Homo sapiens: one gene and its partners. The protein of the gene in region 7 purifies or fractionates together with the protein of the main gene of each other region. This does not show direct contact. Each region holds a gene or a part of one and is shown on either strand. Other genes may lie near its edges.

Region 1 (4,172 bases), on a different chromosome or scaffold from region 7:
TTAAGGGAGCGCTCTGGCAGAAGGTGCCATGCTCAGGGGAGTAGCAAGAGAAAAACAGATTTTGTGACAACTCCAGGTCAATGTGAAGAGAGGAGTCTTGCCAGAAGAAGCAGCAGTCTGCACTGAGCAATCAGGACAGAAGTTCATGGACATTCTCAATCAGATCATGATCTGGGAGCTCTACCACATCCAGTTCAGATGCTTTCTGTATGTTCCCTATAGTTGCCAATGGTTAACAATGGTCTGGATTTCTAGCTTTTCTCAAACATCTGGCAACCCTCAGCCAGTGTGTGCACGAGGTGAAGTGGCTGGAGCTGAGTGTGAGCTGCCCTCTCAGCCTGTAACATTCCTTCTACCTCCCTATCTTCCATCCACTTTTCGGGACCAATGGCCTCTGGTCTCTTTTTTCTTCCAAAGGTTTAGCAGAGTTTTGTCTCCCAAATGCTGCAGGCCTAGAAAGGAAGCTGTGAATGAATTTTATCACCATCTGTGACAAGTGATCAGAGCACATGGACTATGGTCATTTTAGTGGCACTTTGCTAAAGTAACATGCTTCCAATGAGGAGCAGCATTCTACTTTTGGGTGCAGGAAAACAATGTCACTTAAACACTGAGCACTTGTGTGCCAGTGACTGTTCTAGAATTTGGAGATAAAGCAGGAACTGTTTCTATTCATTAAAAGTTATCTAGGAAAAAAATCATTCCATTCACAATAACTATAAAAGTATAAAACATCTAGGAATACATACTTAAAAAAATAACAGCTTTGGCTGAGCATGGTGGCTCACGCCTGTAATCCCAGCACTTTGGGAGGCTGAAGCAGGTCGACCACCTGAAGTCAGGAGTTCAAGACCAGCCTGGCGAACATGGTGAAACCCCGTCTCTACTAAAAATACAGAAATTAGCCAGGCATGGTGACAAGCACCTATAATCCCAGCTACTCAGGAGGCTGAGGCAGGAGAATTGCTTGAACCCGGGAGGTCAAGGTTGCAGTGAGCCAAGATGGTGCCATTGCACTCCTAATAGCTTTGCTGGGTTTTAACTCACATGCCATGAAGTGTACAATTCAATGGTTTTTAGTATATTCAGAAAGTTGGGCAGCCATCAACATTAAGTTTAAAATACTCTCATCACCCCCCAAAAAACCCTATGCCCATTAGTAGTTCCTTCCCACCCCCATTCTATACCATCCTGGACCCAGCAACCACTCATCTACTTTCTGTCTCAATAGAGTTGCCTATTATTCTGGACACTTAATTTTTAAACATTATTTATTTATTTTAATTTTCCCCATTTCTTCTAGTGGACTGTGATTTCTTTCTTTTTTTTTTTTTGAGGCAGAGTCTTGCTCTGTCGCCCAGGCTGGAGTGCAATGGCATGATCACAGCTCACTGCAGCCTCTAACTCCTGGGCTCACACAATCCTCCAGTCTCAGCCTCCCAAGTAGCTGGAACTATAAGCTCATGCCACCACACCTAGCTAATTTTTAATTTTTAGTAGAGATGAGGCCTTGCTATGTTGCCCAAGATGGTCTCAAACTCCTGGTTTCAAGTGATCCTCCGGCCTCAGCCTCCCAAAGTGCTGTGATTTTAGGCATGAGCCACTGCATCCGGGCTGGACATTTCACTGAAATGGAATCGTACAACATATGGTCTTTTTGCAACTGGCTTCCTTCACTTAGCACCCATGTGGCAGCATGTGTCACTACTTCATTCCTTCTTATAGCTGAATAATATTAGAATGCATGGATAAGCTGCCCTGTTTATTCACTTACCAGTTGATGGACATTTGAGTTGTTCTTACTTTTTGGCTATTACAAATAGTGACATTTTATATTCCCACCAGTACCTAGGAATATGTTTACTGTGAAAGGCAAAGGATCATATTATAAATCAATTATAGCATGGGTGTGCCTGTAGTCCTACCTACTTAGGAGGCTATGGTGGGAAGACTGCTGGAGCCCAGAAGTTGGAGGTTATAGCGAGTGATGATTGCACCACTGCGTATCAGCCTGACTGACAGAGCAAGACCCTGTCTCTAAAAAAAAAAAGAATCAATCAATCTTACTGAAGGAACAGAAACAAGACCTAAAATAGTATCATGGGTGGAATGTTTTGTTTTTTTTTTTGAGATGGAGTTTCGCTCTTGTTGCCCAGGCTGGAGTGCAATGGTGCAATCTCGGCTCACTGCAACCTCCACCTCCCAGGTTCAAGCAATTCTCCTGCCTCAGCATCCTAAGTAGCTGGGATTACAGGTGCCCACCACCACGCCAGCTAATTTTTTGTATTTTTAGTAGAGATGGGGTTTCACAATGTTGGCCAGGCTGGTCTTGAACTCCTGACCTAAGGTGATCCACCCGCCTCAGCCTCCCGAAGTGCTGGGATTACAGGCATGAGCCACCGCACTCGGCTGGGCAGAATGTTTGTGTTCCTCCAAAATTCCTGTGTTGAAGCACTAACCCTTCAGGTGGCTGTATTTGGAGTAAGGAAGGAATGAAGGTTAAATGAGGTTGCAGGATGGGGACCTGATCTGAGAATTCGTGTCCTTATAAGAAGAGGTGACACCAGAGACACCTTGCTCATGTGTCCTCTCTCTGTGCACACAGCAGAAAGGGCATGGGAGGGACACAGTGAGAAGATAGCCCAGAAAAGCACCCTCACCAGAAACATGTGCCAGCACCTTGCTCATGGACTTCCAGCCTCCAGAACTGTGAGAAAACAAAATGTCTGTTGTTGGACCCTCCCAGGCTGTGGGGTTTTGTTAACGCAGCCTGAGCAGACTAATGCAACAGCCACAACAAAACTGCAATCAATGAGGAAAAAACAGTGGGCTTGAAGAAAAAAATTCCAATCAAAATCTCAACAGAGTTTTATTTGGGGTGTGGAAGGTAAGAGAGGAAAATGGTGGAAACAAAATTATTAAAAAAGAAATGTGGCAGGCCGGGTGCGGTGGCTCATGCCTGTAACCCCAGCACTTTGGGAGGCTGAGGCGGGCGGTTCACAATGTGAGTTCCAGACCAGCCTGGCCAACATGGTGAAACCCTATCTTTACTAAAAAATTACCAAAATTAGCTGGGCATGGTGGCGGATGCCTGTAATCCCAGCTACTCAGGAGGCTGAGGCAGGAGAACCGCTTGAACCTGGGAGGCGGAGGTTGCAGTGAGCCGAGATCACGCCATTGCATTCCAGCCTGGGGAACAGAGCAAGACTCCGTCTCAAAAAAAAAAAAAAAAAAAAAAAAAAAAAAGACTGTGGCAAGAGGAAACTTGCCTCATCAGGCAGTCAAATCAACACAGTCCAGATAAGGGAACATGGCATGGACATCACCAGAACAGACTGGAGAGACCAGAAACAGATCCCAGCACATACGAGCATTTAGCACAGGCCACGGTCTATTCAGGGAGGGAAACGGCTTGTGTAACATAGCTGAATGATTTCAAACAACTGGCTGAGCTCTCTTGAGAGGAAAGGCAAGTCTCTCTTTTCTGCCATAAGCCAAAACAAATTCCAGCTGAATTACAGAAAAATCTGAGGTAGACACAGGAAACATAGAAACTTAAAATGACATAACCAAATAAAAAATTACTTTTTCCCTATGTTCAAAGGACTTAAAAAGACCACAGAGTTGGAAAAGTCACTTAAGATGCAAGTAGAGTTAACTTCAATTCACCAACAGCTCATGAGAACTGAGAGAGGCCCAACCATGTGCTGTGTGCCGGCTGTGTGCAGCAGAGAAAATCCAAATGGCTAAGCCCCAGGGAGGGGAACTCAGAGGGACCAGTAGTCACGATGGTGGCAATTTACACACCCAAAGATCGGCAATGTCAGCAGTGACAGGTGACACCTATTGCTTGCTGGCAAGGAGGTAGAAGAAAGCAAGCCCACATTGCTGAAATGTTATTCCCCTTGGGGAAAGCAACCTGGCACCCTGACTTACAATAAGATACACCCTCCGATTTAACAATCTAACTTCTTAAGGGCTAGCTCTAAAAATAAAAGCATAAAGACAACAGGGACAGTAGTGATGGAAGAGAAAAACTCAGACAGTGATGCCAGGCAACAGGGAACAGGTGGGAAACACTTTCCTACACATATTTGGATTTCCATTCCCTTATATGAACATTAAGAAAAACACAAACATTATTATTTGGGGGTAAGCGTGGCCAAGTCTGC
Region 2 (4,172 bases), on a different chromosome or scaffold from region 7:
GCAGCTGTGGAAGGAAAAGCATCTGGTTTTAGACATTGCAACTTTGAGATGCCTTACTTAACATGCATGTAGAGATCTCAAGTTGGCAGCTGGATATGAGTCTCTAGCTCAGAGAAGAGGTTGTGAATCTGTGAGTCAGGGCGTAAGGACAGAAGTGGGCATGGAGATGGGCATAAAGTCATGAGGCTGCATGAGATCACTTGGGAGTGTGCACAGATGGGGAAAGCTCCAGGGATGAGTCCTGGGTCATCCGTTCTTTAGTGAGGAAGGGACGCCTGAAAGTCAGAAGCCAAGAAAGTGTTTCAGGAAGGGGTGACCAATTATGTAATGCTGCTGAGAGGTGAGAGAAGCTAAGAATTAGTCACTGGCTTTGGTAGGAGGTGACTGGTCACCAGACAAGTATGGCTTCAGGGTAGTGGAAGGTGACACAAGACTGTCTAATGTGAGTCTAAGAGAACAAGTGGTGAGGAAGCAGAGCCAGATTCTAGGCAGCTCTTTCAAGGATTCCATTCTGAGAGGGAAGAGGCTGGTGGCTGGGGAAGAGGTGGCTCTCAGAGGTCATGGATGGGCTTTTGGGAGGGAAGTGATCCAGTAGAGAAGCAGAGGCGTCAGAGCTCCTTGCAGAGATGAGGAGAGAACCCAAGTGCGGGTGGAGAGGCCACCCTAAGCGGTGGCTTCCCCCAGGAAGTAACCTGGTGGTGGGAGAACGAGCCAATTCTCTCTTGGCTCTTATTTTCTCGGTGATACAAGTGAGACATCACCCGAGGGTGAGAAGTGGGGAGAAGGTATAAAGCAGTCTGGGGTCGGGGAGGGAACTCCTAGCAAATGCAGTCAAATGGCTGGAAGTGCGACAGCTCTTGAGATGCGTGGATGTGAACTGCAGGCTGGTCTAGGGCATGACTAGCAAGGAGGCCGGTGACAGCTCACCTGTGTCTGCAGGACCGCTTGCCAGCTGGCACTCCTGCTGCCAATCCTTGGGCACGACGGGCTCTGTGAGGCGAAGGAAGTCCTGCAGTGGGCAGCGGTGAGGGCAGCCAGGCAGGCTGAGCGGCCAGGGGGCCTTGTCACTCTCGTTCCGAAAGTACATCTCCACTGAGAAATTCCTGAGGGTCGACAGGAGGCAACATGGGAGCTGCTCAGCCTGCCCATCATGGGGTCCTTGGGCTGCCCCGAGCCACCTCCCGAGGGCCCCCCTCCAGAGGACACTGCTAGCTCCACTCACCCAGAATCTTCCTGGTACAGTTCAAATATGTGGCAGGAGGCGTAGGGGGCTTGTTCACCATTGTAGACATCCAGTGCCATTTGCAGGGCAACCAGGGTAGTGTCGTGCTGCGGGGGAGAGGGGCTGCCCGTCAGCATTGTTCCCCACACCCGCAGGAACCGAACAGAGAAGAAATCCAGCTCCTTGCCTGACACAGCACGCTAGGGAGCGCAGGCACTCACCGCAGAGTAAACCAGCAGCTTGGGGAGCTGGGAGGTGGTCGCCATTAGGGTCAGGTTCTTCCTTATCTGAGCCAGCAGGACTCCTGAAGGAGAAAAGTCCCCGGTGTTGCTGGCTACAGCCACCTCTGCCTTCTAATTAGACCTATCTGTGCTCCTTTCACCCTCTGCCAGGCCTGGGCCTCATCACCTACACGGAGAACTCTTTAGTGTCATAGGGACCATGTAAGAACTCTGTGGCACCCCTCCTCTCTAAGAACTGTCAAATGTACAGAAGGAAGCAAGACAAAACAAGATATCTGCCTATATTTCAACACGGATGTAGAAACCTGCCTGTGTTTACAGAAGCACTTCAGTTTGAAACAAATGTAAACTTAAGATTGCTTCAGAGTACACAGCGGGTGGGTGCATGCCCGGGTAACTACCATATGCTCTGAAAAGTGAGATGTCAAAAAGGTGTGACAGCAGGCATGCCCTTAGGTGCTCAAATAAGGAAGCTGGCATGTGTGTTACTCTCAGCCTTCTCAAAATGGCCCCCAGTGGTTCTCTTGGGGCAGCTATTCATTTAGGAGAGGGAGGGTCTTCTGATGTGGGCGAAACTTAAGAACATGAATGGCAGGGCTGGGCGTGGTGGCTCATGTGTGTAATCCCAGCACTTTGGAAGGCTGAGGCGGGCAGATCACCAGAGGTCAGGAGTTTGAGACCAGCCTGGCCAACATAGTGAAACCCCATCTCTACTAAAAATATAAAAATTAGTTGGGCGTGGTGGCAGGCACTTGTAGTCCCAGCTACTTAGGAGGCTGAGGCGGGAGAATCGCTTGAACCTGGGAGGTGGAGGCTGCAATGAGCCGAGATCGTGCCACTCTACTATAGCCTGGGTGACAGAGCAAGACTCTGTCTCAAAATAAATAGGCTGGGTATGGCGGCTCATGCCTGTAATCCCAGCACTTTGGGAGGCCAAGGTGGGTGGATCACCTGAGGTCAGGAGTTCAAGACCAGCTTGGCCAACATGGTGAAACCCTGTTTCTACTAAAAATACAAAAATTAGCTGGGCATGGTGGCTGAGGTCAGGAGTTTGAGTCCAGCCTGGCGAACATGGTGAAACCCCGTTCCTACTAAAAATACAAAAGTTAGCCAGGCATGATGGCATGTGCCTGCAATCCCAGCTACTCAGAAGACTGAGGCAGGAGAATTGCTTGAACTCAGGAGGCAGAGGTTGTAGTGAGCCAAGATCGAGCCATTGCACTCCAGCCTGGGTGACAAGAGGGAAACTCCATCCCCCCGAAAAAAAATAACAATTTTTTTAAAAAGAATATGAATGGCAGAAAAGGAAGAGAGGTGGGGAAATTTGGTGACTAGCGGCATGAGGAGGGGGATTTGGTTTTGAAAGAGCAGGGAGTGTTTCAGTAGAGAGGGAAGTGTGTGAGAAGCCCCCACAGCAGATTTTTAACGCCTTAGGGTCCTGAGGAGTAGAGTGACACGCTGTCCTTGTCACTCACCCCCCTGAAGCCGGGCCTTCTCCGCCTGCTGGTAGATTCCGAAGAGGAAGCGGAAGCTGAAGTCCTTTAGCCGGCTGAGACGCTGCATGGTTTGGGGTGAGGCCCAGGGCGGCAGGCGCAGCCCGTGCGTTTGCTGTGTATCGCAGCAGGCAGGTTAGCGCCCCAGGCCTAGGCCAGCCTCTCCAGGGGGCAGCTCTCTTCCCTAGTGGGAAGGTGCCTGTGTGTGTGAGGGAGGGAGAGGGGAGAGAGGCAGAGGGGCTGGAACCAGTAGACATGGCAGGCGGTGTGGATGCTTCAGGGCACAGGAAAGGAAGCTCAGGCACAAAAAGTGAGACTCAGCAGAAAGGAGCTCTGGGTGGAGAGCAGCAGGGACTGCTGACAATTAATAAACCATTTCCCACTCTGAGGATCTCTGTCACCCATGAGGGAAGTTCCCGTGTTTCACAAGCACAGCCTCCCTGGACCTCCCCAGGGGCGTGACGGTATCAGGCACTGTGTTCTACCGTCCTGGTGACCTGGGCCTGCTGAGAGGGAAAAGAATGATCACAGTGGGCACCCTAGTGGGCTCACCTCACAGAAGAGTGTGTCATAGACATTCCAGACGGTCTCCAGTGTCAGGTCTGTAAGCCCTGTCTCGTTGGCCACCATGTCCAGAAATTGCTATGAAAAATGGATCAGGGTCTCAGTCCTGCTCTGGGGAAAAGACAGCGTGGTGAGCTGCACCTCTGCCCCCACTCACTGCATTCCGAGAACTCTCATTCTGATACTCTGGTGTCTGCCGGGTCTCGTTCTGCAGCTGCTCATAACGGGGACATGGGCCCAACGGGAACTTCAGCAGCTGTAGAGCGAAGCGGGGAAACAGGCAGCGGGAAAAGGAGCCTGGCATCAGCAGGCCTACGGCCAGAGCTGTCCCCTCACCACCCCAGGGAAGGGCTGGCCACTCTTACCCTGTCCTCAGTGATGGGCACAGTGTGCACAGGAATAGGCTGCCACGAGATGTTCGGGTTGAAGCGCTGCATCCCGTTGGGAGGGAAGAGTCCAGCCAGGTTGGCCTCAGCACTCATGAGAGTCCGGTCAAAGTCTGTGCTTCGCACATAAACCTGCAGCGATAGCAACACAAGTCGTGTGTGTGTGTGTGTGTGTGTGTGTGTTGGGGAAGTTTTGGTCACCCTGAAGTGGAGCCTTGTATGTATGTGTGTGTGTGTGGTGGGAAGTTTTGGTCACCCCAAAGTG
Region 3 (4,172 bases), on a different chromosome or scaffold from region 7:
CACGGTGGCTCATGCCTGTAATCCCAGCACTTTGGGAGGCCAAGGCGGGTCGAGGCCGAGGCAGGAGATCGAGACCATCCTGGCTAACACGGTGAAATCCTGTCTCTACTAAAAATACAAAAAATTAGCCAGGCGTGGTGACACACACCTGTAGTCCCAGCTACTCAGGAGGCTGAGGCAGGAGAATTGCTTGAACCCAGAAGGCAGAGGCTGCAGGGAGCTGAGATCACGCCACTGCACTCCAGCCTGGGGGACAGAGTGAGACTCTGTCTCAAAAACAAAACAAAACAAAATTTGCTAAAAAGAGTTCCATAACAGCACAAAAATTGTTCTCCTTATATAACTGAATAGACAGGGTAAGTAGGAAAACCATACTCTGAGAATTCTCTTTCCCCTCTCTGAAAGCCAGGGTCTCACTATGTTGCCCAGGCTAGCCTCAAACTCTTGAGCTCAAGTGATCCTCTTGCCACAGCTTCCAGAGTAGCTAGGAGTACAAGCGCATGCCACCATACCCCACCAAGAACACATTTTAAATCATTCTTCTAGCCCTTCATTACCACTAAGTCTTTATTAAGTAAATACCCTATAACACCATTTTAGGTACTACAGAGGATACATGGAAACAGAAGGCTCAATTCTGTCCTACAGGGGATAAACCTAATATTTAATAGTCTAAGATGTTTACATTTAAAAAGACTTAAAAGATCAATTACTACACACACTAAACAAGAAAATATACTTTCTCTAGTATTTAACGTCATTACTGTCAAATTTACATAAAAGTGAAAAAATCAGGACAGATGAAAACCTAGTTAATCCAAGTTTTCATGTTATTAATGTTCTCACTATGTCTCTCTATTCTGTTCTATAAGTTAATAAACTAATAAAAACTTAACTCATCAGCCAACAGGTACATTGACAAGGGAAGAAGTACCCCCATTGATCCAAAGCAGCCAAAAATAAATGAATAAATAGAAAAATATGAGAATAATAGGGGATTTTTTCCCCTGCAGAATTTAAAAATTAAAATCCACAAATAAAATGCTTCAAAATTCCATAGATTTAATGGAACATAAAGTAAAAATTCAATTCGTGGCTTTTGTCCTATGTAGCCCAAATGAGTACTCACAAGCACCAGCTCATTTTTAACATGTGTGAATAGTCTCAAGAAGATAACTACTAGTTTACATTCACATTTTATATGTTCATGTTGTGTATATTCACCACTTGCATGACTCTATTTTACATTTATACCCTTATTTTCTTGTTGCCTCAATTCCTTCACTTATCACATGAAAATTTTTATGAACATCCTGAAATTCTAACACATGGAAGAAGGCAGTATAAGTACTTTTCAATGTAGGACACCCTACACAAAAAGTCTAAAAGATTTTTACCTGCAGAAGGTGATGGCTTTACATCTACAGTAGAGGCAGAAGTGGCTGGGTCTGTGTTTACTGAAGCATCATTCACTTTCTGCTGATTCCCCGTTTTCTTTGTGAAGACATTATTATTATTAGCCTATTCAAAATGTTAATAAGTTGTTAAATGAGTCAATGAATTAGTTATATTTCCTCCTTGCAGTAACTAAGTAAATAATATTTTTACATATTACTTTAGGAAATCCTAAGAAGTCCACAAAGCTGCTCTTGTTTTAAAAGCCAACAAAGACTAAAGTTATACACATCATTTTGCTAACTGACCTAAATGTTGCAAAAGAAATATACTATATTTTGCTTTTTCTTATAAACTCATCAAAAGACCACCAAAATAAGTCATTCACAGAAATCTACTACAAAGTTATAACGTACTCAAAAGGCCCCAGGCCAAATTCATACATGTGAGTGAGTCATACTTAAAGTATCATATTTTTTCACAAAAGCCTTCCTACTTTACTACATGCATTCCTTGCTTGTCTCCTCTGATTTAAAAAAGTAGGACCAGGAAAGTATCATATGCATCACATAGTAAAAGAGAGCTATAGTACCACTTTCAATTTCAGGTTTTAAATATGTTTCTTCTACATTTCCAGGAGTTCCTCAGATAGTAAGCCTTGTATTTAAGCACAGTTTAAGGACCCACATTGAAACATACATACCTCAAAACAAAAACATCTTCTTTGGTATATTACAAATCTACCTACCTATTCTCAAATGGAATAAAAAAGAATTAGCTAACACTCTTTAACTGTTCCTAATCTAATAGGAATAGGAATCTTCATAATATGAGTATGAAGAACTTGCCAATTACAACTGAGACACCATCTAAGACCTAGGGATGATTAATGGTGAACTCCAATGAGGATAGATGTCATGGTCACAAGAGTCAATAATAAGTATTGAGTTTTGAGTGACAGATATTTATCAAGAACTTAAGAGGGAAATTATCTAGAAAAGAAGACTTTTTTCTGTTTTTTCCTTGCTACTGCCCTTGCTTCCTTTGTTGGCTGTCCAGTAAATTAAAATTCCAGACTTTTTTAAAGAAGAGTTATTACAATATTTGGCCAATGACTTGAAATCAAGCAGAGATAAATAATATTTAAAAGGTTGATATTTGGAATATTACAAATTTGATTTTCGAACAAAAATACTAACAACACATTTTACTATGTGTAAATTTAATGATACTTACTGATTGATCTGAAAGTTTGTTTATTTGTTTTTGGAGCCTTTGGCATTCCTTAAATTTTTCTTTATAATGGTCTGCAGCCATCTGAAGACGGAGTTTCAGATCTTCAACTTCTCTTCTTAGTTCGTGTTCCAGTGTATCAGTCTTGTCCTAGAAAGAAACAAACATTTGAAGAAAAAAATAAAAATCTGATACCTCCTAATGTTAATAGTAACCCCAACTTCAATCTTACTTTTTTTCTTTTTTTTGTTTTTGAGACAGAGTCTTGCTCTGTCACCCAGGCTGAAACACAGTGGCCCAATTATGGCTCACTGCAGCCTTGACCTCCTGGCTCAAGCAATCCTCTTGTCTCAGCCTTTGGACTAGCTGGGACTACAGCTGCACACCACCACACCTGGGTAATTTTTGAAAATTTTTGTAGAGATGAGGTCTCACTATGTTGCCCGGGCTGGTCTTGAATTCCTGGGATCAAGCGATCTTCCCACCTCAGCCCCCCAAAGTGCTGAGGTTATAGGTGTGAGCAACTGTCCCCGGCCACTTTTTTATTTTGGGATTTTGGCTACAGAGCAACATAGGGTCTCTTGTTAAGTCCAGTTTTACATTCTTAGGACTAAGGTTCATTTAAAAAACTAGAGAAAAATAATCCACCTCCTGAAGAGCAATTATTACTCCCTTAAACAACCATAATACTGTTTTATACAGCTAGTAAGAAATTCCAAACAAAACAATACATATCTGACATCAATATATTTAATCAATAGGGCAGCTTTCACCAACCATTAAGAATTCTGCTTACAGAAGTTTTCCTTACAGCACACATTAACTGTAAGCCAAGAAGTCACAATGACTAAACAAAAGGAATGAAAATTTTAAATTTAAAATAAGGCAGAAATCTGACCTGTCTTATCTTAACACAATTTACTACTTTGTGAGATTATAGTGGTTTCTTAAATCAAAATGCAAATTCAAAATTAACTTGTTTTACCTGATCTTTTTTCATAGCATTTAGTTTAAGTTCTGCCACTGCATCAGCTAACTGCTTTTTCACTTTCTCGTTTTCCAAGCGTGCAGTATGCAGGTCTGCCATCGTTCTGTCTCGTACGTTGACAGCATCACTGAGTTCTTTAGCCAGAAAGACAACTTCTTGCCGAGTTGCCTGAACCTGTTCCTCTGCTTTACGAAGTTGCTCCTTTAAAAAACAAGTATCTTCCTGAAGAAAGCAGATAAATATATTTGTAATTCAACCACTCAAGTAAAAAACAGAAGCAGAAACAATTTTCGCACATATTTCAACAGGGCCAAAATTTTAGATATTGGTTTTTCTACTCATGACTTACAGAGTATATGCCTACAAAAAACTTAAGAAGTAACTTTGTTTTAGGTTCCCTCTATAACAACCCTATGTACTTGGTTTCACTGCTACTACTTTATACACAAGGAAGCTAAAGTACAGCGAGTCAGGCAACATACCCAGTGCTTAAGGACCTGCCCAAACTGAGGCTCAAACAAAAGATCCCATCCCCCAGAATCTCTTCAGCTAGAAA
Region 4 (4,172 bases), on a different chromosome or scaffold from region 7:
AACTTTCTTTTGAGAATATCACAAAAGAGTAATGGAAATTTTTCACCTAAAAGAAATAAGAATACTTTGGATGACAACAGCAATATTCAAGAAGAACTTTTTACTGCTTTTCCCACTCTTACTTGTTTTGGACTAATTCAGTTTCTAGAAATCAGATCTACATATTTTGTCATGTAATAACTATTTTCATTTCATATGCAAATTTGTCCTTGTTTCCTACTAAAAATTCTCTGAATACACAAGAATCTCAGAGTCCTAATTTTGGATACCAACAACACAAAGTACTTCTAACCTAAATGATATGATTTTTCAAACTTTCTTTTCAACCTTAAGAGCAGAACTTCTAGGGACAAAAAATAGCTGTTTCTCCCCTTTGATATGAATTATTATGCAAAGAATGACAGACATAGAGACTGCAAAGGCCAAAGGGACATATGCAAAGTAGAGACATTAAGTTACAAAAAGAAACACATGAAAAACTTGAGAGCAAGTTTCAAGGCATCCATTCTTCCCCCTGAGGAATTCATTTTTAAGGTTAAAATATATCTTCAAGCCTCAGCTCAGTATCACCTTTTTCAGGAAGCTGTCCTTCCAGTACTCCTTACCACCCGCTGGGTTAAATGCCTCTCCCAGCTGCTCCCAAGACACTCCACACACTATTATCTAAGTATTACTGTACCTCACAGCAGTGAATTTATCTATTTTACCCCTGCCCACTAAAGTATAAAATCCTTGAGTGAAAAATCATATACTTCCAGAAAGCACACAGTAGATGCTCAATAATTATTTGTGGCCTGTAATCCCAGCACCCTGGGAGGCCAAGGCGGGAGGATCACTTGAGGTCAGGAGTTGAAGACCAGCCTGACCAACATGGTGAAGCCCCATCCCTACCAGAAACATAAAAATTAGCCGGGCATGGTGGCCCATGCCTGTTGTCCCAGCTACTTGGGCGCCTGAGGCAGGAGAATCGCTTGAACCCAAAACGCAGAGGTTGCAGGGAACCAAGATCACACCACTGCACTGCACTCCAGCCTCGGCAACAAAGTGAGATTCTGTCACAAATAAATTATTACTATTTGTGGAAGAGGTGGGTGAATGAATGAATGTTGTCCATTGTCACTCATCACTGGAGACCAGCACCATACTGTCTCATTAAACATATCTAGCACCATGTCACCTATGGTGTGCTCAGTGCCCCAGAGTACACAAGCACAGGAGGCAGAAACACACATAGCAAGTAAAGCAAGCAGCAAAGGTAAACACCTTTTGTGTCTATCATTCTTCCTATCTCTATCCTAATTACAAAGGAAGCTCTAAGAAGCCCCAAACCAGAAAGAAATGCAAAAATCCTCCAGAGCAGAGGTGGCATATAGCCAAGAGACCTCAAAGGGAAAGAAGGCAGGATAAATGGTAGATTGGTAGATTTTAAAATGTTCTTGGCCGGGCACAGTGGCTCACGCCTGTAATCCCAGCACTTTGGGTGGCCGAGGCAGGCGGATCACAAGGTCAAGAGATTGAGACCATCCTAGCCAACATGGTGAAACCCTGTCTCCACTAAAAATTCAAAATTAGCTGGGCATGGTGGCACATGTCTGTAGTCCCAGCTGCTCAGGAGGCTGAGGCCGGAGAATCGCTTGAACCGGGGAGGCAGAGATTGCAGTGAGCCAAGATCACACCACTGCACTCCAGCCTGGGTGACAGAGCGAGACTCCATCTCAAAAAAAAAAAAATGTCCTGCCCCTTCCTGAAATATGGAGTAGGAGATATTCTTAACTACAACCACAGGTAGCAGGGCTGCTAAGGGAGTATAAGGGTGGCAGGAGTTTCAATGGATGAAGACAGCTCAGTAAAGGAAAGACAAGAAGATTCTCGGAAATCCATGCCATCTGACAACTCAGATAAGCCTGCCAACCTGATCCCTGGGAGAGAGTCTGGCAAAGATGGTGGCAGGACCAGTTCTAGAAACCAGAGAACAAAGCATGTTACTAGAATAGAATCTCAGGCTCATGCCTGTAATCAGCACTTTGGGAGGCCAAGGTTGGTAGGTCTCTTGAGCCTGGGAGTCCCAGATCAGCCTGAGCAACATGGTAAAACCCTGTCTCAACTAAAACTACAAAAAAAAATTAGCCAGGCATGGTGGCATACGCCTGCAGTCCCCGCTGCTTAGGAGGCTGAGGTGGGAGGATGGCTTGAGCCTGGGAAGTCGAAGCTGTGGTGAGCTGAGATTGCACCACTGCACTCCAGCCTGGGCAATGGGAGTGAGACCCTGTCTCAAAAAACAAAAAAGAATAGAGCCTCAGGAAAGGGCTAAGGTAAAATACAGTTAATAGACACAGAACAGGATCCGGGAAACAAAGCAAAATCCTATTACCTCAACTAAGACCAAAGACAGGTGGCAACCTGGAACAGGGAGGACTGGATGTTGTTTCAGGATGTGCTAAGGCTGCCTAAATAACTACTACATGGAACAATGCGGGTAAGGGGGAAAATTACTACGCTATATCCCAAAGTAAAACAGAACTCTGACCTACCACAGGAATCTAAATTTTTTTAAATGCTAATGTGTTTTAAAGGTTAGTATCCTAACATTTGAGGCTAACTGCTCTAGGCTTCAAGTAATGATAGCTTTTGGTAGAGGGCCAATCTAATAAGCAGAGATAAGAAGGCCCCAGTTGAGGAACAGTAAATAGGAGGACCAAGGTAGGCCTGACAAGTAACATGGACCACTTCAAAATTCCAGCCTTCTGTTCCAGCATGGTGGCTCACACGTGTAATTCCAGCACTTTGAGAGGTGAAGGCAGGAGGGTTGCTTGAGAACAGGAATTTGACACCAACCTGGGCAACACAGTGAGGCCCTATCTCTACAAAAAAATAAAATAACTAGCCAGGCATTGGGTGCACATCTGTAGTCCCAGCCACTTAGGAGGCTAAGGTGGGAGAATCGCTTGAGCCAGGGAGGTTGAGGCTGCAGTGAGCCATAATCATGCCAATGTACTCCAGCCTAAATGACAGAGCAAGACCTTGCCTCAAAAAAATAGAAAAGAAAAAAAAAAAGTCCTAGTCTTTTAAGAGTTAGAAAGCCTTGGAAGGCTTTCTATTACAATCTCCCAAGCAAAACAGCAAATCCCTCCATTCACATCCCTCAAGGAACAGGTAGTGTGTAACAATAGTTAGCGTGTATGTTCTAACATCAGACCTCCTTAGGTTTGAATCCCATCTCTGCCAGTCATTAGTTTTTCACTTTATCCCAGCTATTTAACCTCTCTAGGCCTTGGTTTCTCATCTTAATAGAAAATAGTAATAGTTCTCATCTCAAAGAGTTGATACCAAGATAAATAGTACAAAGTAAATTGTCAGTACATGTTAATCATTATTATTACCCTACTTCTACTTAAATGCTTCCAATGAAAGGGAAGCATGTATTACTTCCCAAAGCAGCACATGGCATTTTCATAATGAATAAGAAAAATACAGCCGAATTTGCAGCTAAAATTTCCCAAAAATTTGACATCTGTAGCCCCAATGGAACAAAGAACTAGATAACCAACAGTTAGCTGTGGAGGGAGCCTCAATTACCTTCTCTGTTGACTCTGTTTGATTTGACCAAATGCAAAAGGCAGGATAAAGGAAAATTACCACGTACCGCTTGTTCACTACTCTCATGTCAGAGGTATCCTTTAATTTGCAATGAAAGACAAAACAACACTTTCTAAAGTTTTCTTGTATACCAATATATTCTAGTCTTATTATACATTACCATTTTATTTTTTCACACAAAGCACTATAAGAATATATTCCTCATATACTTTTTTTTTGAGACGGAGTTTTATTCTTATTGCCCAGGCTGGAGTGCAATGGTGCAATCTCAGGTCACTGCAACCTCTGCCTCCCAGGTGCAAGAGACTCTCCTGCCTCAGCCTCCCAAGTAGCTGGGATTACAGGTGCCTGCCACCATGCCCGGCTAATTTTGTATTTTAGCAGACACAGGGTTTCACCATGTTGGTCAGGCTGGTCTCAAACTCCTGACCTCAGGTGATCCACCCGCCTCAGCCTCCCAGAGTGCTGGGATTACAGGCATGAGCCACTGCGCCCGGCCCTCATATACATTTTTTATGAAATACCTTTTAAACATGCTCAAAGTGTGAATTAGGAAAGTGAAAGAAATAAAAGGT
Region 5 (4,172 bases), on a different chromosome or scaffold from region 7:
AGACTCTGTCTCAAAAAAAAAAAAATAGGGCCATGTGCAGTGGCTCACACCAATAATCCCAGCACTTTGGGAGGCCAAGGTGGGCACATCACCTGAGGTCAGGAGTTCAAGACCAGCCTGGCCAACATGGTGAAACCCCATCTCTACTAAAAATACAAAAAAATTAGCCAGGCGTGGTGGCGGGCACCTGTAGTCCCAGCTACTTGGCAGAAGAATCACTTGAACCCAGGAGGCGGAGGCTGCAGTGAGTCAAGATTGCACCACTGCACTCCAGCCTGGGCGACAGAGCGAGATTCTATCTCAAAAAAAAAATAAAAATAAAAATAAAAAATAAAAAATTACAGAATTGAAAGGAACCTAAGACATCATCTACGCCAACACCTTCACTGTACAGATCAAAGAGCCAACAGGCAGAGAGGCTCCAGGACTTATCAGAGGTCACAAAGTGCTAGGAACAGAGCTGGGATTAGAGCTCCATCCTGAGGTTATTTCCTTTTCCACTAAAACAAGCTGCCAAACTACAGCAGCCCACCACCTGTTTATGAAAAGAGGCTTCATTTATGAATTCTCTGCAGCTGCTTTTGCACTGCAGCAGCACAGCTGAATAGCTGTGACAGAGACTATATGGCCCACAAAGCTAAAATATTTACTATCTGGTCCTTCACAGAAAAAGTTCACCAACCCCAGCACTAAAGCATTCTGCCTCCTAAAATAATATCTAAGTAACTACGACAATCAGGGTGTTAACCAATCAACAACCAGTCTTAGAATGCCCAGTTAAGAACAAAACAAAAAACATGTGATTAATTTAATAGCTGTGAAGTAAGCAATAAACAGTGCTGTCAAAACAGAGACTAGGCCTGGCACAGTGGCTCACACCTGTAATCTCAACCATGTGGGAGGCCAAGGATGGAGGATCACTTGAGGCCAGGAGTTTGAGACAGCCTGAGCAACACAGTGAGACCCCGTCTCCACAAAAAAATTAATTAGCCAGGAATCGTGGCACATGTCTGTAATCCTAGCTACTGGGGAGGCTGATGTGGGAGGATCCCTTGAGGCCACAAGTTTGAGGTTACAGTGAGTTATGACAGTGTCAATGCACTCCAGCTTAAGCAACAGAGCGAGACACCGTCTCTTAAAAAAAAAAAAAGGAAGGGCCGGGCGCAGTAGCTCACGCCTGTAATCCCAGCACTTTGGGAGGCTGAGGTGGACGGATCACTTGAGGTCAGGAGTTCAAGACCAGCCTGGCCAACGTGGTGAAACCCCATCTCAGCTAAAACTACAAAAATTAGTTGGGCGTGGTGGCGGGCGCCTGTAATCCCAGCTACTCAGGAGGCTGAGGCAGAAGAATTGCTTGAACCCAGGTGGCGGAGGTTGCAGTGAGCTGAGACCGCACCATTCACTGCACTCCAGCCTGGGTGAGAAAGCAAGACTCCATCTCAAAGGAAAAAAATATCCAGAAAAAACAGAGACCATCCTTAGACAACTATTAATAACCCATACCTTAGCATTAAAGCATGTTTCTATTTATGTACATGTATACACACACACACACACAAATACATCCACATCACCTCAGGTTGAAAAAGGACTTACTGTTTTTCTCTCAGTCTCTCATATGTTTCCATGTCAGGTTTGATCTGCTTGGTCAACCGATGATACTGGCGTAACTGGGCAGCAGCATAATCTAAAAATATAAAATGAGAATCAGCGATAATATATTTCCTTGTTTGGACCTTCCTATTGAGAGAAAAATCTAAATTATCACAGGTGAGTATCTTTTATCCAAAACGCTTGGAATCGGAAGTGTTTCTGATTTTTTTCAGATTTTGGAATATCTTTATTATACTTAAATTCAAAATCTGAAATGCTCCAATCAGCATTTCCTTTGAGCATCATAGCACCATGTTGGCATTCAAACAGTTTTGGATTTTGCAACATTTGGGATTTCAGATTTTCATACTAGGGATACTCAATCTGTGTGAAGTAATATATGCCCATAACACTATTCTAAGCATAGCTTCTATCCTGAAGATGCTGACAAACAGACTTTGATAAATTTTATCATCAAGTATTTAAAAACCTGGCTAACTGAAGTACAGCCTTTTTTTTTAACTTCTCTCCTAAGAGACATATTTGTACTTTTCTTGGTCTTAAGCCTCATCAAGAATATCCCACGAAGCACAAGAGGCACATCCTTTCTTGAAACCAGAAACAATGAAGGAAATGACTAACAGCCCAGTCAATAAGGTTCAATAAAGGTCAATCTGACCTGAAAATCCCAGATCAGGGTTTTTCCTCTTCTTTTTCCTCTCCCATCTTTCTGCATCTTCTGCACTGATCTCCAGCAACTTCACTTTCTCATAGTCTTCTCCTCTTGCCGCACATTCCTAAAAAGAAGAAAAAAGCTGACACCTACAATTATGATACATGCAATAATTTGATCTACTTTACATCAAGAAAGATCCAATAAATATCAACCAATACTTTAATAGTATTTTTTTAGTTGGAGTTTCACTCACTCTGTCACGCAGGCTGGAGTGCAGTGGCGCGATCTCAGCTCACTGCAACCTCCACCTCCCAGGTTCAAGGGATTCTCATCTCTTAGCCTCCCAAGTAGCTGGGACTACAGGCACATGCCACCATGCCCGGCTAATTTTTGTATTTTTAGTAGAGATGGGGTTTCACCATGTTGGCCATGCTGGTCTCAAATTCCTGACCTCAAATGATCTGCCAGCCTCGGCCTCCCAAAAGTGCTGGGATTACAGGCATGAGCCACTGCACCCGGCCACTTTAATAGCATTTAAAGGAAATTTGGGAATATACTATGGTATATAAGTGAGCACATGATACTTATTGAGTGTTTATCAGGTGTCAGACCTTGTTTTAAATGTTTTACATGCATTAACTCACTTAATTCATAATGAACTCAAATAATTATTGTTACAGTCCCTGTTTTATTGATGAGAAAACAGAGGTACAGAGAAGTTAAATAAACTCACCCAACGTGTTGCAGTTGGTACTGAGCAGAGCCAGAATTTCAATTCTGGCAGCTTGGCCTAAGAGCCAGTGTATACAACCACCATGTTGTAGTGTCTTGATACAACAGAATGATTGACTAAATCACTTATGAAGATAGAATAGTTCCTAACCTTTTTCTTTTCCTCTTCCTTTAGTTCCCACTCCAAACGAGCTTTTTTGGCTTCCCAATTTGCAGGTAATTTTAGTCTTTTATCTTCTTCCACAACTTCCTGGTGATTTAATTTACGAGCTTCATTCTAAAACCGTAACACAAGAAGTCTGTCAGCTAAAACATGAAAATAAATCCAGATACACCTTGCCTTCTTTGAGGAGGGTCAGGCAGGACATATTAATAAGCTGACCCCATTTTATCCTAAAAGCAATAGAGAGCCATCACAGGATTTTAAGCCAGGGAATAGCCTAATAGGGTCTACGTTTTTATGCAGTCAAGAAAAATGTGTTGAGTTGCACTGGTTTGCTGTTCCAGAGCCCTGGAGGTTAAAATCAGCTTTGCCTCTATTGAGTTGTGTGGTCCCTTTTTATTGGATCAGAACAAGGTTTTGCAGTATTGGAGACCATACTATAGTGGCACTTAAGTAGACTTTATTTGGCATTACTATTAAATTGGCCAGGTGCAGTGGATCACGCTTGTAATCCTAGCACTTTGGGAGGCTGAGGCAGGTGGATCACCTGAGGTCAGAAGTTCAAGACCAGGCTGGCCAACATGGTGAAACCCCGTCTCTACTAAAAATACAAAAATTAGCGAGGCATGGTGGTGCACACCTGTAATCCTAGCTACTCGGGAGGCTGAGGCAGGAGATTCACTTGAACCCAGGAGGCAGAGGTTGCAGTCAGCTGAGATTGCACTACTGCACTACAGCCTGGGTGACAGAGCGAGACTCCATCTCAAAAAAAAAAAAAAAAATTACGTCACATGATGTGAAAGACACTCTTTCTTTTTTTTTTTTGAGACAGAGTCTCACTCTGTCACCCAAGCTGGAGTACAGTGGAGCCATCTCAGCTCATTTCAACTTTCGCCTCTGGGGTTCAAACAATTCTCATGCCTCAGCCTCCCGAGTAGCTGGGGTTACAAGCGTGTGCCACAATGCCTGGCTTATTTTTTTGTATTTTTGGTAGAAACGTGGTTTTGC
Region 6 (4,026 bases), on a different chromosome or scaffold from region 7:
AGTGAAATTTATGTGGGAACTGAAGAATAAAAATTAGCAGGGTGAAGAGAGGTGTGTAAAGGAAGATTTCAAGCAGAGGTGATTGCTTGTACACAGCTCCTGGGGCACGAAGGAGCAAATGTGGCTGGAGTAGAAAGAATAGAGATAAACCTACAGAAGATGTCAGATTATTTAAGATGATGTAGGCTACAAAAAAGTATTTGGGCATTATGGTAAGAGTAATAGCCACTCAACTGTTTTAAGGAGTAGAATAGGATGAGATCTGTCTTTTAAAACTACATATTTTAAAAATACATTGTTATGTGGAGACTCAGGTAAAAGCAGAAGTGAATGCAAGATGACCAGTTAGAAGGTTATTATTATATTATAGTTGTCTAAGAAGGAGAGGATAATGATGTGGGTAAGACAGGCCAACAGTGCAAGTGACAAGCGGATAGAATCAGGACATATTATGGAGTAGATATGACATGACCTGTTGAAAGGTTGGACAAAGAGGGATAAAGGAGAGATTAAGAATTATCCCTAAGTTTATGGCAGAATCAACTCAGGAAAGGTATCATTAACTAGACTAGGAACACTGAAGAGGATCAGGCTGGTGTACATGTTGAATCTGTGGTGCCCACCTCCTAGTACAGAAATATATAGTTGGGTACAAAAATCTGAAAACCAGACTTCATTCAAAATAAAAAATTTGGGAGTTATCCCAATATGGTAAATTAAGTCACAGCAAGACGATTATCTAGGGAGAAATGGCAGAGTGGGAAAAAAAAGATGGCCTTGAGAAACTCTAACACCTAGAGGTGAAGAAAAAGAGGATAATCTAGAAAAGGACTGAAGAAAAAGTCTGAGGTAGGAGAAAAAAAACAGAAGAAGGTGGCATCCCCAAATCCCAGTGAAGAAAGTTTCAAGGAGGGCTGAACTGTCAAACACTGTTAAGAGGTCAAGTAAAATAAGGAATTCTCTATTTTCAGTTTATAGGGAAACTGAAATGCATGCATCATTTAGAGGAAATAGTATAATCATTGGCAACATGAAAGCATCATTTTTTTAATTTAAGTTCTGGGATACATGTACAGGACATGCAGATTTGTTACATAGGTAAACGTGTGTCATAGTGGTTTGCTGCACCTATCAACTCAAACCCATCACCCAGGTATTAAGCCCTGCCTGCTTTAGCTGTTTACCCTGACAGAGCATCACTTTTATGCCATGTTTAAAGAAGCCTCTTATTCAAGCTTTTTCAAAGTGAAAATTAATTGGAGAATAAAAAAGGAGTGACTGGACTTTGTATTGCATGTCCAAAACAACTTACCTTTTCCACAAATACTATGTTTAGCAAATACTGACATACTTTTATAGGGAAAAAGTCATAATTTTCTGATGCATTGTTTTCTGCTTTTCTGTGTAGTAAAGGTTTGGGTACATATGACAGCCAATCTTCAAAACCCCCTATAAACTTACCCCTTTCTTATTTATACATGTTTTTGAAACTATGTAGGCATTAAGAAAAATATGGAAAGATACCCACAAAAGTTACTTGGCAGGAGGAATATATAAATAGAAAGGTCTTAGTAAGAGGAGGCAGGCAAAAACTGGAAAAAAAAGAGCAGTTAAAAAGTTATGACTTCACTTATATACATATATAGTTTATATATATTTTATTGTATATATAACATAAATTATGTGTCTTATTTACATAAAGAAATTAGATGAAAAGAATGCAGTTAATATATATAATACTAAGTTGCTTCATTAAGTGAAAAAGGCAAGATTCAAGGAATATTCATCTTTATTAAAGATAAACCATTTATGTTTGCATTAGCAAAGATAAAAGTGTGGAAGGATACATAAGAAGCTAACACTGATTCCTTCTACGAAACAGAACGAGAGAGTTTTGCCTTCATACATCTTTGAATTGTACTGTTTCACTTAACACATATTTGTCATTTTGAAAAATTAGAAGAAAATTACTTTTTTGATGTTTAAAAATACATACCTTGACCTTGCCATACTTTAGAAGGTATAACTAATATTTTGTCACAGGATGCAGAAGGCTGGATCCACCGCCAAACCAGAAAATCTGCACCACCTATTCTTCGTGTTTCCGTGCGAACTCTAGACTCATTAGCAGCAAGGAAGTCAACAGCTCTATCCCAGACTTTCTTCATTTTTTTCCTATCATGTGAACAAAATGGCAAATTTACTATCATCTTGGCTTGTCATCTTTTTGAAATATTAGTATCTGAGGTAATAGTTAACTCTAGCTGTTCTTACCACTACTCATGGAGTTTGTTCAAAGAAGATTTAGATGCCTATATCTCATCTCAGATTTTCTGAGTTTCAATTTCCAGAGCTAGAGCACAAACATCTGTATTTTTTTTCCCCAAAAGCTCCACTGGCTTTATGTGTTGCTAGGGTCAAGATGCTGCTTCAGGATATGGAATTATCTTTTATTTTCAAAAAGTTGCATTTTAGTTTTTACTTTAAAAGCTTCATTAATAATAAAGTTAGTACTTAAAAAACATTAGTAAAACACCAGCCACTGGCTGTCATCTATTTCTTTATCAAGATGAAATTAAAGGAAATAAGATGGAGACTAACAACAAAGAATCAAGAATGCCTAGGAATGAGAATGACTTAGAAATCCAGGTGTCACTCAAAATCAGGAGAATGGAAGAGAATTTAGAAAGAGAGTATAAAGTACAAAAACAAAGCAAAACCAAAAAAAACCTGTGCAGTAAGCAAGTCTAGTTGAGAAGGGTCACAGCTCTCAATATAATTTTCAATACTGCAGAAAGCACTTAAATTTTCTGATTTACTTGAACTCATAATGCTTTGAACACACCTGTCATGAGGCTGTATTAAGGAATCGCGTACATGTGGAATAGGCATGTAAGGTTGTAAATCTTTGTTTTCCTGGCAGGCTTCATTATGACTTCGTAAAACATCTAAAAATAAATAAAATTTACAAATGAATCAATCACTTGACATAATGTAGTTTAATCATGCAATGACTCTTCTAGAAATAGTTGAGATTCTTACAAATATCATACCTATAATCTTTACCACCATATCATACATCTGCCTTGTTTCCTCCTCTTCTTTTGTCCATCGATATTTCATGTAACGCAGAACGACACAAACCATCACTACACCTGTAATATTAATATACTTTGTATTTTAAAAATTGTGGTCAATATCATTCAATAATATTTCAGTGATTATTTTAACTGCCACAACGGAATGAACCTTCAAGACAGATGGCTGAATTAGCTATATAATTAAAACTACATAAAAAAATTTAATACTGAACATTTTCCAAAGATTCACTTTCTAGAAAAAAGCATTTCTTCCATTACACTGATAAGTGAACATTTAAATTCTAACTACTATTTAAAAATATATATATATAACTATGTTTCACAAACTTTTTTCCTTTGAAGCATAAAACGACTAGAAAAGTGAACCTCATGAGATTAAACATACTAAATCTTACTTTAAGTAAAATGAATTTTTCTTTTGTTGTTGTTGTTTTTGAGATAGGGTCTTACTCTGTCATCCAGGCTGGAGGGCAGTAGTGCAATCATGGCTAACTGCAGCCTCCAACTCCTGGGCTCAAGAAATCCTCCTACCTCAGCTTCCCAAGTAGCTGGGACTACAGGCACGTGCCACTATGCCTGTCTAATTTTAAAAATTTTTTTGTAGAGGTAGGGTCTATGCTTCCCAGGCTGGTCTTAAACTCCTGAGTGCAAGCAATCCTCCTGCCTCCCAAAGTGCTGGGATTACAGGTGTGAGCCACTAAAGCTGGCCAAAATGAATTATTTTTAAAGAAGAAAGAAAGAATGAAAAAACAACTCTCACCTAAATCCCTATTATCAATTAAAAAATGATAAAAATTTTAAATGTAGGTAAATTACATTTTAAAAACTAAATTTTAATAAACTTTATAACACTTTATTATTTAAAAATAAGCTCAATTTTTGTATTTTTCAATTCTACTTTCTAAAGTAGATTTCTATGTATATA
Region 7 (4,172 bases):
AGGCAACTAGGTCTGTGAATGCTTCTAGAAATATTCTATTATATACAGGAAAACAGGTCCACAACAGCCCTCTCAACTCCCTTTTAAAAACTGCAGATAGGAACATTCTGTACACAAGGTTGAAAACTTGATTTTTTTTCACTCGACAATGTAATCATGAAGGCTATTCTATGTTAATATACTGTATACCTATCCACCCCATTCTTAACAGTTGCATAGCATTTCCTTATATGAATGGGACACACAGTGTCTTCTGGATGCCAAGTAGCCAGGTAGTTTGTAGTCTCTTGATATGACAGACAACATGGCTATTATCAACAATATCTTTACATGTGTGCAAATATATCCACAATGAATTATTTGAAGATATAAGTAAAAGTGTACGTACTTTTTTTTTTTTTTTTTTGCCCATGACACAGCACTCAGGATGTCCTAAGAACATGTGCCCTACATTTTAAATGTTGATAGATACAGCACAACTGCCCTCTGAAACACTTATATAATTTTTACAAACATCACCTCTGGATAGGTCCCCTTCTTGCAGCCAACTTACATGAATAAACCACAGAAGATTCACTATGATGACTGTAGGAAGAGGATGGAATCGGGGTCTAAAGTGAGCTTGTAATGAGTGGTGTGGGAGAAGCTGGGCATCCAGAAGTGGGTCGTCTTCAATACTCTGGGTGATATCCAAGGAACCCTGGGGTGCAGAAAAACAAGCAACCTATAATCACCACTTTCTAGATTATGTTTCTAAGACAAATCTACTAAACTACAGAGCTTTTTAACCACATACAAATTAAAGGCAAGAGAACACATTGCCTACCTGAATCCAATTTTTTAAAAATTAATTATTAATTTAATTTAATTAATTAAAAAATTAATTAATTTTTTAAAAACTGTAGCAACACGGTCTCACTATGTTGCCCAGGCTGGTCTTGTTTGTTTGTGTTTTGTTTTTTGTTTTTGAGACAGTCTCGCTCTGTTGCCCAGGCTGGAGTGCAGCGGCGCAATCTTGGCTCACTGCAACCTCTGCCTCCCAGGTTCGAGCAATTCTCCTGCCTCAGCCTCCTGAGTAGCTGGGACTACAGGTGTGCACCACCACACCCAGCTAATTTTTTTTTTTTTTTTTTTTGAGATAGAGTTTCACTCTTGTTGCCCAGGCTGGAGTGCACTGGCACAACCTTGGCTCGCCGAAACCTCCACCTCCCGGGTTCCAGCAATTCTCCTGCCTCAGCCTCCTGGGGTAGCTGGGATTACAGGCATGCACCACCACACCCGGCTAATTTTTTATTTTTAATTTTTAGTAGAGATGGGGTTTCTCTATGTTGGTCAGGCTGGTCGCGAACTCCTGACCTCAGGTGATCCGCCTGCCTCGGCCTCCCAAAGTGCTGGGATTACAGGCATGAGCCACCGTGCCCGGCACACATCCAGCTAATTTTTGTATTTTCAGTAGAGGGAGGGTTTCACTGTGTTGGCCATGCTGGTCTCAAACTCCTGACCTCAGGTGATCTACCCACCTCGGCCTCCCAAAGTGGTGGGATTACAGGCATTAGCCACAGTGCCCGGCCCCAGGCTAGTCTTGAACTCTTGGCCGCAAGCTGCAATTCCAGCTACTCGGGAGGCTGAGGCAGGAGAATCACTTGGACCCAGGAGGTGGAGGTTGCAGTGAGCCGAGATTGCGCCACTGCACTCCAGCCTGGGCGACAGAGAGACTTCGTCTCAAAAATATGGATATATACTGCATTGTATATACTTTTAATTTGCTAAGAGTGTAGATCTTAAGTGTTCTCATCACATGTTAAAAAAAAGAAAAAAAGAATATGGTTCATGGGAAGCACATAACAAATCAGCAAATGAAAAGCATAGAAGACAATGCCAAAAAATTTAGGTCAGCTAACTGCACTACAATGAGACAGAAATGAAGGATTCATGAATAGGTTTTGGCTACACAGAATGAGAGCTCTTTATTTTGGAAGTAGGTAGTAGGACAAATGATGTAAGAGATGGCTGTTGATTGCTAAGATTACAAAGATAAGGACAGTAATCTAGGGTGTAACCTAGCTCTGGAGTGGGCTCCTCAATTTCCAGTAGCAGGTATTCAACACTGCTCTGCAACTGTTTTTGTTGTTTTGTTTGTTTGTTTGTTTTTGAGATGGAATCTCGCTCTGTCGCCGAGGCTGGAGTGCAGTGGCTCAATCTCGGCTCATTGCAACTTCTGCCCCCTGGGTTCAATCGATTCTCCTGTCTCAGCCTCCTGAGTAGCTAGGATTAAAGGCACGCGCCACTATGCCCGGCTAATTTTTGTATTTTTAGTAGAGATGGGGTTTCGCCATGTTAGCCAAACTGGTCTCAAACTCCCAACCCCAGGTGATCCGCCTGCCTCAGCCTCCCAAAGTGCTGGGATTACAGGCATGAGCCACCGCGCCTGGCCAAGTCTTTTATTCAATGCCTAGATTGCTTCCTGTTTAGTTTACCATAACTCATGGTACAATTCAGATTACTCCTGTTCTCTTCAAGACCCCTCTGCCTCTAGCTCATTCTCAGTCAGCAGATGTTGGAGCCTTGAGATCTGCTCTTCCCTTAGCTAATGTCTGTGCATTCTTTCATGCTCAGAAGGGGCAATTCCCACCACAGGGCCTTTCTGGATACCCCTAATCTGGATTGTGCCACCCTCCATGTTTTTCAAAGCATTCTGTGCTTGCCTCTTCTATCAAACTATCCTGTGATGGTCTCTTACTTATCTCTTCTCCACTAGACGTCATTGGACCCATTACCTTTACACCTCTTGTCTTTGTAATCCCAGCACTCAACACTATCTCATGGTTGTCACTCAGCAAACATTTGCTAGATGAATGAATGAGTGCCCCAAACCTGTTTCTGCAGTATTTTCTAATTCAATTATGGGCATCATCAAAGACCTGGGCTAATTAGAAGAGATTATCAGGACATACGGGGGATCAACTGTGACCAAAGGCAGTAAGAGCTGTGGTTAAGGTCAGGCTCCTAAGGGCAAACTGCCTGGATTCAAGCACAAGTTTTACCGCTTTCTAGCTGAGAGCAAGTTACTTCATCTCTCATGCCTCAGTTTCCACATCTAAAAAGGAGACTAATAATAGCACCTGCTTCGTAGCTCTGTCAGGAATACTAAATGAGTCACTACACATGCAAGTCCTCATGACACTGCCTGACGCACAGAGAGCACTCAATAAGTATTAGCCACTATTATTTCTTTATTAACTCTTTTCTCTTTTTAATATTTTTTAAATTTTAAAATAAAAATCAACAGGGTCTCGCTATGTTGGCCAGGTTGGTCTTGAACTCTTAGCCTCAAGCAATCCTCCCAAGTGCACTCCCAGTGTGCTAGGATTACAGGTGTGAGCCACCACACTTGGCCTTTTTATTAACTCTTACTTTTGACTTGCACCCCGCTATGGTCTAAATGTTGGTGTCCCCCAATAGTTCCCTGCTTTCCTTTGGGAAGTAATTAAGCCATGAGGGTTCCCCCCCTCATAAATGAGATCAGTGCCCTTATAAAAGAGGCTTGAATGAGCTCCCTTCCACCTTCCACTGCGTGAGGATGCAGCAAGAAGGCGCCATCTTTGAAGCAGAGAGCAACCCCTCCCCAGGGCTCTTGGCACCTTGATCTTGGGCTTCCTGAATCCGTGGCTGCCTTAATCTTGGACTTCCTGTCCTCTAGAACTGTGGTCAATACATTTCTATTTGTAAATTACCCTATTTGTATTTTACTATAGCAACCCAAACAAAGACACTACCCCTATAATCATTACCATTCTATCCACTCAGTGCTGGGGCATGATAAAAAGAGAAAAAATCATTACCATTCTAACTCCTAAACCTGTTATTTCCTCTCTATTCTCACTATCTTAGTCCAGGCCCTCCCATTTCTCATGGCCTTTTATTAGAAGCTTCCAGTCTTCTGGTCTTGGCAATCTCTTTCACTGCTCCAAGACAAACATTCGTGTTTCTCTCCTCAAAAACTTTGGGTAGCTCCCTATGATGGTCAATATTAAGTGTCAAATGGATGGCAAAGTATCGTCTGTGAGGAGCCAAACATTTGAGTCAGTGGACTGGGAGAGGAAGACCCACCCTCAATATGGGCAAGCACCATCCAATCAGCTGCCAATGCAGCTAGAACAAAGCACAGAATA

The links.
Region 1: the proteins of TMEM192 (region 7) and RAB7A purify together in Homo sapiens (affinity purification with mass spectrometry; 2 studies listed by BioGRID, with this or other methods). This does not show direct contact.
Region 2: the proteins of TMEM192 (region 7) and ACP2 purify together in Homo sapiens (affinity purification with mass spectrometry; 3 studies listed by BioGRID and IntAct, with this or other methods). This does not show direct contact.
Region 3: the proteins of TMEM192 (region 7) and TAX1BP1 purify together in Homo sapiens (affinity purification with western blotting; 2 studies listed by BioGRID and IntAct, with this or other methods). This does not show direct contact.
Region 4: the proteins of TMEM192 (region 7) and ERO1A purify together in Homo sapiens (affinity purification with mass spectrometry, with the first as the bait; one large-scale study listed by BioGRID). This does not show direct contact.
Region 5: the proteins of TMEM192 (region 7) and SYF2 purify together in Homo sapiens (affinity purification with mass spectrometry, with the first as the bait; one large-scale study listed by BioGRID). This does not show direct contact.
Region 6: the proteins of TMEM192 (region 7) and LEMD3 purify together in Homo sapiens (co-immunoprecipitation; 2 studies listed by BioGRID and IntAct, with this or other methods). This does not show direct contact.

What each region holds. Positions count from the first base shown.
Region 1 is NC_000003.12:128,809,011-128,813,182, reverse strand, and holds part of RAB7A (ras-related protein Rab-7a), read right to left. Parts: intron 1-4,172.
Region 2 is NC_000011.10:47,241,796-47,245,967, forward strand, and holds part of ACP2 (lysosomal acid phosphatase isoform 1 precursor), read right to left. Parts: intron 4,040-4,172; coding exon 3,887-4,039; intron 3,778-3,886; coding exon 3,679-3,777; intron 3,628-3,678; exon of another isoform or gene 3,600-3,627; coding exon 3,510-3,599; intron 3,073-3,509; coding exon 2,940-3,072; intron 1,527-2,939; coding exon 1,444-1,526; intron 1,330-1,443; coding exon 1,223-1,329; intron 1,104-1,222; coding exon 928-1,103; intron 1-927.
Region 3 is NC_000007.14:27,791,672-27,795,843, reverse strand, and holds part of TAX1BP1 (tax1-binding protein 1), read right to left. Parts: intron 3,839-4,172; coding exon 3,614-3,838; intron 2,779-3,613; coding exon 2,632-2,778; intron 1,522-2,631; coding exon 1,398-1,521; intron 1-1,397.
Region 4 is NC_000014.9:52,685,158-52,689,329, forward strand, and holds part of ERO1A (ERO1-like protein alpha isoform 2 precursor), read right to left. Parts: intron 1-4,172. UniProt on the Homo sapiens protein: Oxidoreductase involved in disulfide bond formation in the endoplasmic reticulum. Efficiently reoxidizes P4HB/PDI, the enzyme catalyzing protein disulfide formation, in order to allow P4HB to sustain additional rounds of disulfide formation.
Region 5 is NC_000001.11:25,225,846-25,230,017, forward strand, and holds part of SYF2 (pre-mRNA-splicing factor SYF2), read right to left. Parts: intron 3,279-4,172; coding exon 3,153-3,278; intron 2,391-3,152; coding exon 2,273-2,390; intron 1,688-2,272; coding exon 1,597-1,687; intron 1-1,596. UniProt on the Homo sapiens protein: Involved in pre-mRNA splicing as component of the spliceosome.
Region 6 is NC_000012.12:65,239,058-65,243,083, reverse strand, and holds part of LEMD3 (inner nuclear membrane protein Man1), read right to left. Parts: intron 3,156-4,026; coding exon 3,054-3,155; intron 2,949-3,053; coding exon 2,846-2,948; intron 2,176-2,845; coding exon 1,997-2,175; intron 1-1,996.
Region 7 is NC_000004.12:165,102,397-165,106,568, forward strand, and holds part of TMEM192 (transmembrane protein 192), read right to left. Parts: intron 701-4,172; coding exon 554-700; intron 1-553.